2 linked regions of the Homo sapiens genome follow. The protein of the gene in region 2 interacts with the protein of the main gene of each other region in a biochemical or structural test. Each region holds a gene or a part of one and is shown on either strand. Other genes may lie near its edges.

Region 1 (3,750 bases), about 23 Mb from region 2:
TGTGGGGATTTTCTACTATCTGGTCCCTTCTCACGGCAGACATCACTAATTGATTTCTACTGGTACAGGGTTGTTTAAAAATCCTTTTCTGTATTTAATTTTAGGGAGATAAACCAAAAATGCTGGCAGACACCATGAAATCATCCCACACAGACATTGTAGTCAGGCAACCTTGAGTTCAAATCCTGGTTTCTCTTAATTCTGAGCAAAGTGGATAAATGACTTTACTTCTAAGCCTTGGAGAAAATTATATCCTATCTCACAGGGTTGCAGGGAACATCTATAAAAGTGTCTAGCAGAAAGTAAATACTAAATGTTATTTCCTTTTAATATGGAATATCATACTGACATTTTTCTGTCTTGGTTTTCCCGTCTGTTAAATGGGCATAACAGATGACCTACCTTAGAAATGGTTCTGAGGAGTAAACCAGTTAATACATGTAAAGTGCTTAGTGCCTGACCCAAAATTAACACTCAATAGTAACTTTTATTATTAATACATCATCCTGGTACCTTGGGAAAAGCTAAAAAAGAAAATATTTTTTAGCAATCCTAAAGATTAAAAAAAATACAAAAATTCTGAGTAGCCACAAATGCTGAAGATGTGTATAGAACATATAAATGTCTCTGGCACACATGTCAGTTCATAAATCACTCTGTCATTCGTTTGATCCTCAGAACAATCTTGTAAGGTAGGCCTGGGAGATTCCATTTCCATGTTACTCATGGGGAAAGTGAGGCACAAAAGAGTTCAGTATCAAAGCCACTTTGTTAAATGCTCCTATTTCAAATTACAATCCAGGCTTTCTGGCTCCTAGACCATTTCTAGTGTCTTGCATGGTCCTTCTACCTATTTTTCACTTTCCAGAAAACTAGAGATCATTCCTTCACTATAGTAATTATCTACAGATAGACATAGAATGTGTCTAACAAACACAATAATCTACCAGAGGATTTCTGGAATCTTTTTAACCATGCAATGGCAGTAGACAACTGCCATCAATTTGTATTTATAACGCCAAATGAGAAGCTAGGTTTACTTGGCAAGTATAGATAATGATCTAGTGGCTCTAGAGTTATAAAGTAATCAGGTACGATTGTCACTCTTAAGAGTGACAGGTGCTTCAACATGATTTAAAATACTTCAGAGGTTTGTCTTTATCGTCTCTTGTTTACTGACAGCCCACAAGGCAGGGTGAGAGACCTCAGGGGAGAACAGGAACTTTACAAAGGAAAACAGAAGAATCAGCAAGAAAACCACAACATGCTCCCTGCCTCAGAAAACTCCAAAAACCACCTACTGAGAAGTCAGACTTGGTTTCAATTATCTTCCGAGCCAGGAAGATACAGGTGAGGCTTGTGAACTGAGACCAGGGAACAAGAGTTAAGCTAGGATGACTCTACGGGTGAACGTCCAGGAAGCCATGGATCTACCGCAGTCGTCAGAGCCCAGCGGATCCCTGGCAGAGTTAAATGCTCGTTCTGAACCAAATGTCCGCTTCCGAACCAATCGCTGGTGCTCACTCGCAGCCCCAGTCCCAAGCGTACTCCAGCGCCCAAGGGTCGCCCTGACTGAAAGAAGAGAATCAGGCCTGTAGTCATAGGGTGTAGGGATGCCTCCTAGAAGAGGGGAAAAGATCAAGATGCGGAGAGGCTGGATCCAGCCAGATACGCGACCCAAGGGGCTTGGGACACCCTCACCTCTTCCGCACAGAGCCCTCCCTCTCAGGACAGCGCCAGCCTCCGCCGCCGCTGGACCAGCCCTTCTATTCAGGCTGTGCAGCTTAGAGAAGGGGGCGGAAGGGAATAATCGTAGGGCGGAGAGAAAACACGAATAACGAGACCGCAGGGCATGCTGGAAGTCGTAGTTTCTTCTGCCTCTGCTGTCAGGCGCTGTCCCGACGAACCACAAGGCTTCTTGACTACAGCCCCCAGAAACCCCAAGCACCGTGCTAGGTCATTTCCTCTCCTTTCCGCGAGACCTTCCGCGGTTATCCAGCGAGTCACGTAGCAAGACTACAATTCCCATGAGGCTCAGCAAGGGCGATTTAGGGTCCAGGGAAGCAATGAGACGTGTTCTTTGTTTTCCTATGGGTGAGGAATGGTTGTATGAGCAGTTGGGTTTCGGGACGCTTTTTGGGGAGAACCCGATGGAGTCTGAAGGATCTCTAAATCAGGCGGAACCCACGGTGCGGCGAGTTGGGACGGAAGTAACCGGTGGGAGTGGGGAGGAGCCGGAAGTTAAGGAGGGGAGGGGGTGGAGGGAAAAGCAAGCCAGGAGGTGCTTGCGGCCGCTTCTAGTAGTTTCCAGGCGCTGCCGGGCGGCTGGCACTAAGCGGTCCTGAGGCTGTGGCTACGGCTGCTCCGGAGCTGGTGGCGCCGCGATAGGAGAGCCGATGGCCAAGTGGGGTGAGGGAGACCCACGCTGGATCGTGGAGGAGCGGGCGGACGCCACCAACGTCAACAACTGGCACTGGTGAGGGCCAGAAAAGCAGGCCGGCCTTGGGAGACCTGCGGCCGGGCCAGGGTTTCAGGGTTCCTAGAACCTCGGCCCGGACAGAGCTGGGGCTGAGGTAGCCCTGTCCGGAGATGGGGGTGGGTCCTTCCTGTGGCAGGGGTCCGTAGCCCCAGGCCTCTCCACTCCGCGGTCACCTTCTCAGTGTTTGAGGGGAGGGAGATGGACGTGGAGGGCTGCGCCCCAGAGGAGGGTTGTCAGAGAGACTAGGAGATAACGCCCTGGCTGCTGCATCCAGCCCGAGCAGGGAGGTGCTTATTACACGTGGCCAGAGGAGTCACTGAGACTGGAACCTCCTTTGATTGTGTTGGGAGATAGCTGTGAAAGGCCTAAGGCCAGGGGTCTGTAATTCCTATTTTGCGGCCTGCGGTAAAATTAAAAGTCATTCATAGGGGACCGCTGCAGCGGTCCCGCGGGAGATTGAGAACGTGTTGTGCAGGTGCTCAGAGCTCAGATAGCTGCGGCCTCTCACCCGGAACTATCAGGTCGGGTGTGTTGGAACTCCAGGTTGCCGAGCAGCCGTGGTTTTATAACCTGACCGTTCTTAAAATAACTGCCCTCCTTCATGAAATCTTCCCAAAGTAATATTAGTTTCCTTATTTTTGAATTCCACTGAACTTTTTTCGTAATGTTTGTATTGTACCGTTACTTTGTTGCAGCCTTTTTTGCTGTTGTTTTCTCTAATAGTTGATAAGTAGGAAGGCAGATAGTGATGTTTCTTTTCCATATCTCACTTTGTATTCTCTCTTCTTAACATGCAGAGTACTTGACCTAATTTTTGTTGTTTGTTTTGAAGCCCTGGACTTAACGTTTTTGTGGCCATCTAGGGGACAGTGAATGTGTAGGAAGTTTATAATGCAAGTGCGAATCTGATAGGTCAGAACACCGTGCCAATGAGGTCAGGGTTATTGGTTTAATCCTTTCTGGGCCTTTTAGCTAAGTACTATTCTTTCATGGTCCAGTCTGTGTTCCTGATCTCAGCAATATGTGCAGTTTTCCACTTGGTCAAATGGGGGCGCCATGTTAAAGTATCAAGTATTCCCCCGCACCATCATGCCGAGAAAGGAGAGCATAATTTTCCATTGAGTTTATACCATTTTCTACAGCAGCTGTCTTTGTTGACAGTGTGCAACCCCTTGTCTTCCTAAAAAAGAATGACATGTTTGTGGACATACTGGAGTGCGACTGGGAGTTTTTGTGTTCTTTTCAAACTATTTGTCAGGCCTCCTTTAACC
Region 2 (3,750 bases):
TGCAGCCATAACAAAAGATGAGTTCATGTCCTTTGTAGGGACATGGATGAAGCTGGAAACCATCATTCTGAGCAAACTATCGCAAGGACAGAAAACCAAACCCTGCATGTTCTCACTCATAGGTGACAATTGAACAATGAGAACACTTGGACACAGGGTAGGAAACACACACCGGGGCCTGTCGTGGGGAGCAGGGAGGGATAGCATTAGGAGATATACCTAATGTAAATGATGAGTTAACGAGTGCAGCACACCAACGTGGCACTTACATACATATGTAACAAACCTGCACGTTGTGCACATGTACCCTAGAACTTAAAGTATAATAATAATTAAAAAAAAAAACAAATTAGCTGGATGTGGTGGCGGGTGCCGCTAATCCCAGCTACTTGGGAGGCTGAGGCAGGAGAAATGCTTGAACCTGGGAGGCAGAGGTTGCAGTGAGCTGAGATTGTGCCATTGCACTCCAGCCTGGGTGACAAGAGGGAGACTCTGTCTCGGGGGAAAAAAAAAAAAAAAAAAAGAACCTACTTATATATAAAAAAATTGACAAAGGAGATCGGGCGTGGTGGCTCACACCTTTAATCCCAGCACTTTGGGAGGCCAAGGCAGGCGGATCATGAGGTCAGGAGTTCAAGACCGGCCTGGCCAACATGGTGAAACCCTGTCTCTACTAAAAATACAAAAATTAGCTGGGTGTGGTGGCAGGCACCTGTAATCGCAGCTACTTGGGAACCTGAGGTAGAGAATTGCTTGAATGCGGGAGGTGGAGGTTCCAATGAGCTAAGATTGTGCTGCTGCACTCCAGCCTGGGCAACAGAGCAAGACTCCGTGCCAAAAAACAAACAAAAAAAAATTGACAAAGGGATAAGAAACTTGCAGAATTAGCCAGGCAGATTGGGAAGAGGAGGAAATATAACTTTTAGAAATTAAAAAAATGAAACTGAAGTCCAGTATACTCATTAAATAGATTAGACATAGATTAAATACGGTGATTGGGAAGAAAGGTCTAAAGAAATTGTGCTGAATGCAGCGCAAAGACAGGTAGAAAATATGAATGAGAATTTAAGAAACATGGAAGACTGGGAGGGTATAATATGCCCTTAATTGAAATTCCTGGAGATAACAGAGGCAATGTGCTAGATGCAACGTTAGAGAAGATAATGGCTAAAAAAGTTTCTAGAACACATGCAAAATATCGGTCTTCAGAAAGCCTAATAAATTCCAAATAAGTCAAATTAAATCCCTACTTGGATTAAAACATAGTAAATTGCAGTATATACTTATAAAATATAGTTAATATAAAAGCAGCCAAAGAAAGAAATATCGATTATCTAAAAGGCAACAGCAGTTACACTGAATTGGTTTGCCAACAGCAATACTGAAGGGCAAGATAGATATCAGTGTCAAACTAGAATTCGGTTCCCAGCAAATACCTCTCAACAAATTATCTTTCCAGAATGACAGCAAAATAAAGATTTTTTTTTTTAATCTAGGGAAGCTACATGACATGCTGAAAAGATGTGTTAGGTTTCATATTTACTCCTCACTTGTAAAAGAAAACTAATAAACTAGGGTTTAGAAATAATAAGCTCTCAGAGCACAGAGAGCATGTTCACCATATAATCACATACATAGCAGGCACTCAGTAAAAATCTATGGGAATGTTCCTCCTGCCATGAGAGCAGCTGTCTGCCAGAAGCAGGCAGGCACTGTGGGTGGTAGTGAAATCCTAGAGGCATTCCTATTGAAGTGTGGAGCAAAACATGGTTGCCCAGTGTTACCACTATTGTCCAATGTGGCACCTGAAGTTCTACTCCAGAAAAAGAATGGTGAATACGAGAAGGAAAACATTACTAACTTTAAAATCAATGGCATCTCCTACATATATAACAAACTAATCACCTGAAAAACTATCAGAAGTAATATATACAGAAATTTGACCTAGTAAGAAATATGACATACCTCCTATCTAGGAGCTTAAAAACCATTCCTTTCTAAGGTTTTGTTCAAAATACCAATAGAATATAGCTATTAATATATTTCTTCAATATCCTAGTAACTACTGCTGGGATAAAGGAGAGCTAGGATGGCTTCTGCCCTCAGGGAGCTCTGGGCTGAGTGGTAAACGGGGTGGCGGACCTGTTACTGACTTTGTTGGCTGTAATGGGTATAAAGGAGCAAGTTGTTGGTTCTGAGACGTGTAGTTGGGGGAAGAGCCAGGAAATGCCTCATAGGGAGGTGAACCATAAATTGAATCTGAATTCATGATCAAAAGGCCATGAATTTAAAGAAAAGGTCCTCAGTGTGAATAGTCATCTTCAAATGGATAAGTCACGTGGTCATCTTTATATTTCATAAATAGAATGAAAGATGTTGAAAGGGGAAAATTCTGGCTGGGCACAGGGGCTCACGCCTGTAATCCTAGCATTTTGGGAGACTGTGGTGGGCAGATCACGAGGTCAGAAGTTCGAGACCAGCCTGGCCAACATGGTGAAACCCTGTCTCTACTAAAAATACAAAAATTAGCCGAGCATGGTGACGGGTGCCTATAGTCCCAGCTACTCAGGAAGCTGAGGCAGGAGAATCGCTTGAACCCAGGAGGCAGAGGTTGCAGTGAGCTGAGATCATGCCATTGCACTCCAGCCTGGATGGCAAGAACAAGACTCCATCTCAAAAAAAAAAAAAAAAAGAGGAAAATTTATCACTTGACAGATTGTGCTATAAGTTAAGATCAGGAGGCTTTTATTTCTTGGGGGTTAATCTTACTAAGTGCTTACATAAACCTATCTTATGAAGAGGTGTCTGAAGAAGTCTAATCAGTTCCAATCTGATTCTCCTAATAGGTTTAGTTGGTATAGTAGTTGACCGTGGTGTGCTATTAATTAACAAAGTCTTTTTATTTTTAACTTGAATTTTAAGCTCTGATAAAACAATATGATTAATCAGAGCACTTGAGACATGATCTAAAATTGATGATTTGGAACTTTAAAATTTTGTTACTCATCTCTGTTTTTCCTAAGTGAACGTCACAGTTGGAGACTCATTAATTCTCTTTCTGGGGACATCAGGAAGCACCACTCTGCAGTGGTTGGTGGTCTTCTGTATTAGTAAGGGTTCCCTAGAGGGACAGAACTAATAGGAGATATATATATATATATAAAGGGGAGTTTATTAAGTATTGACTTACATGATCGCAGGGTCCCACAATAGGCTGTCTGCAAGCTTGAGGAGCAAGGAGAGCCAGTCTGAGTCTCAAAACTGAAGAACTTGGAGTTCGATGTTTGAGGGCAGGAAGCAGCCAGCATTGGAGAAAGATGTAGGCTGGGAGTCAAGGCCACTCTTGCCTTTTCATATATTTCTGCCTGCTTTGTATTCGCTGGCAGCTGATGAGATTGTGCCCACCCAGATTAAGTGTGGGTCTGCCTTTCCCAGCCCACTGACTCAAATGTTAATCTCCTTTGGCAACACCCTCACAGGCATACCCAGGAACAATACTTTGCATCCTTCAATCCAATCAAGTTGACTTTAGACTACATCTCCCTGTGGTACTTGTATCTTTCTGTCATCTTGCCATAAGCTTTATTTCCTCTTGCAGCCCACTTGCTTCAACAATGTCCTTTTTGTTTTATGAGGAAGGCTTATCAATTTTACTTCAAATGATTTGTGATTAACTAAAACAATTCTTTCTTTTCTAGGATTGTAGAAATCTATAGTAGAAGACTACAAGGTAAGCTTTAAAAATCTGTA

Evidence for each region. The genes of interacting proteins can lie anywhere in the genome.
Region 1: the proteins of GCH1 (region 2) and AHSA1 form a complex in vitro, tested with the Homo sapiens proteins (one study listed by BioGRID).

Annotation. Positions count from the first base shown.
Region 1 is NC_000014.9:77,455,794-77,459,543, forward strand, and holds the start of AHSA1 (activator of 90 kDa heat shock protein ATPase homolog 1), read left to right. Parts: upstream 1-2,299; 5' UTR 2,300-2,396; coding exon 2,397-2,476; intron 2,477-3,750. UniProt on the Homo sapiens protein: Acts as a co-chaperone of HSP90AA1. Activates the ATPase activity of HSP90AA1 leading to increase in its chaperone activity.
Region 2 is NC_000014.9:54,847,079-54,850,828, reverse strand, and holds part of GCH1 (GTP cyclohydrolase 1), read left to right. Parts: intron 1-3,698; coding exon 3,699-3,730; intron 3,731-3,750. UniProt on the Homo sapiens protein: Positively regulates nitric oxide synthesis in umbilical vein endothelial cells (HUVECs). May be involved in dopamine synthesis. May modify pain sensitivity and persistence.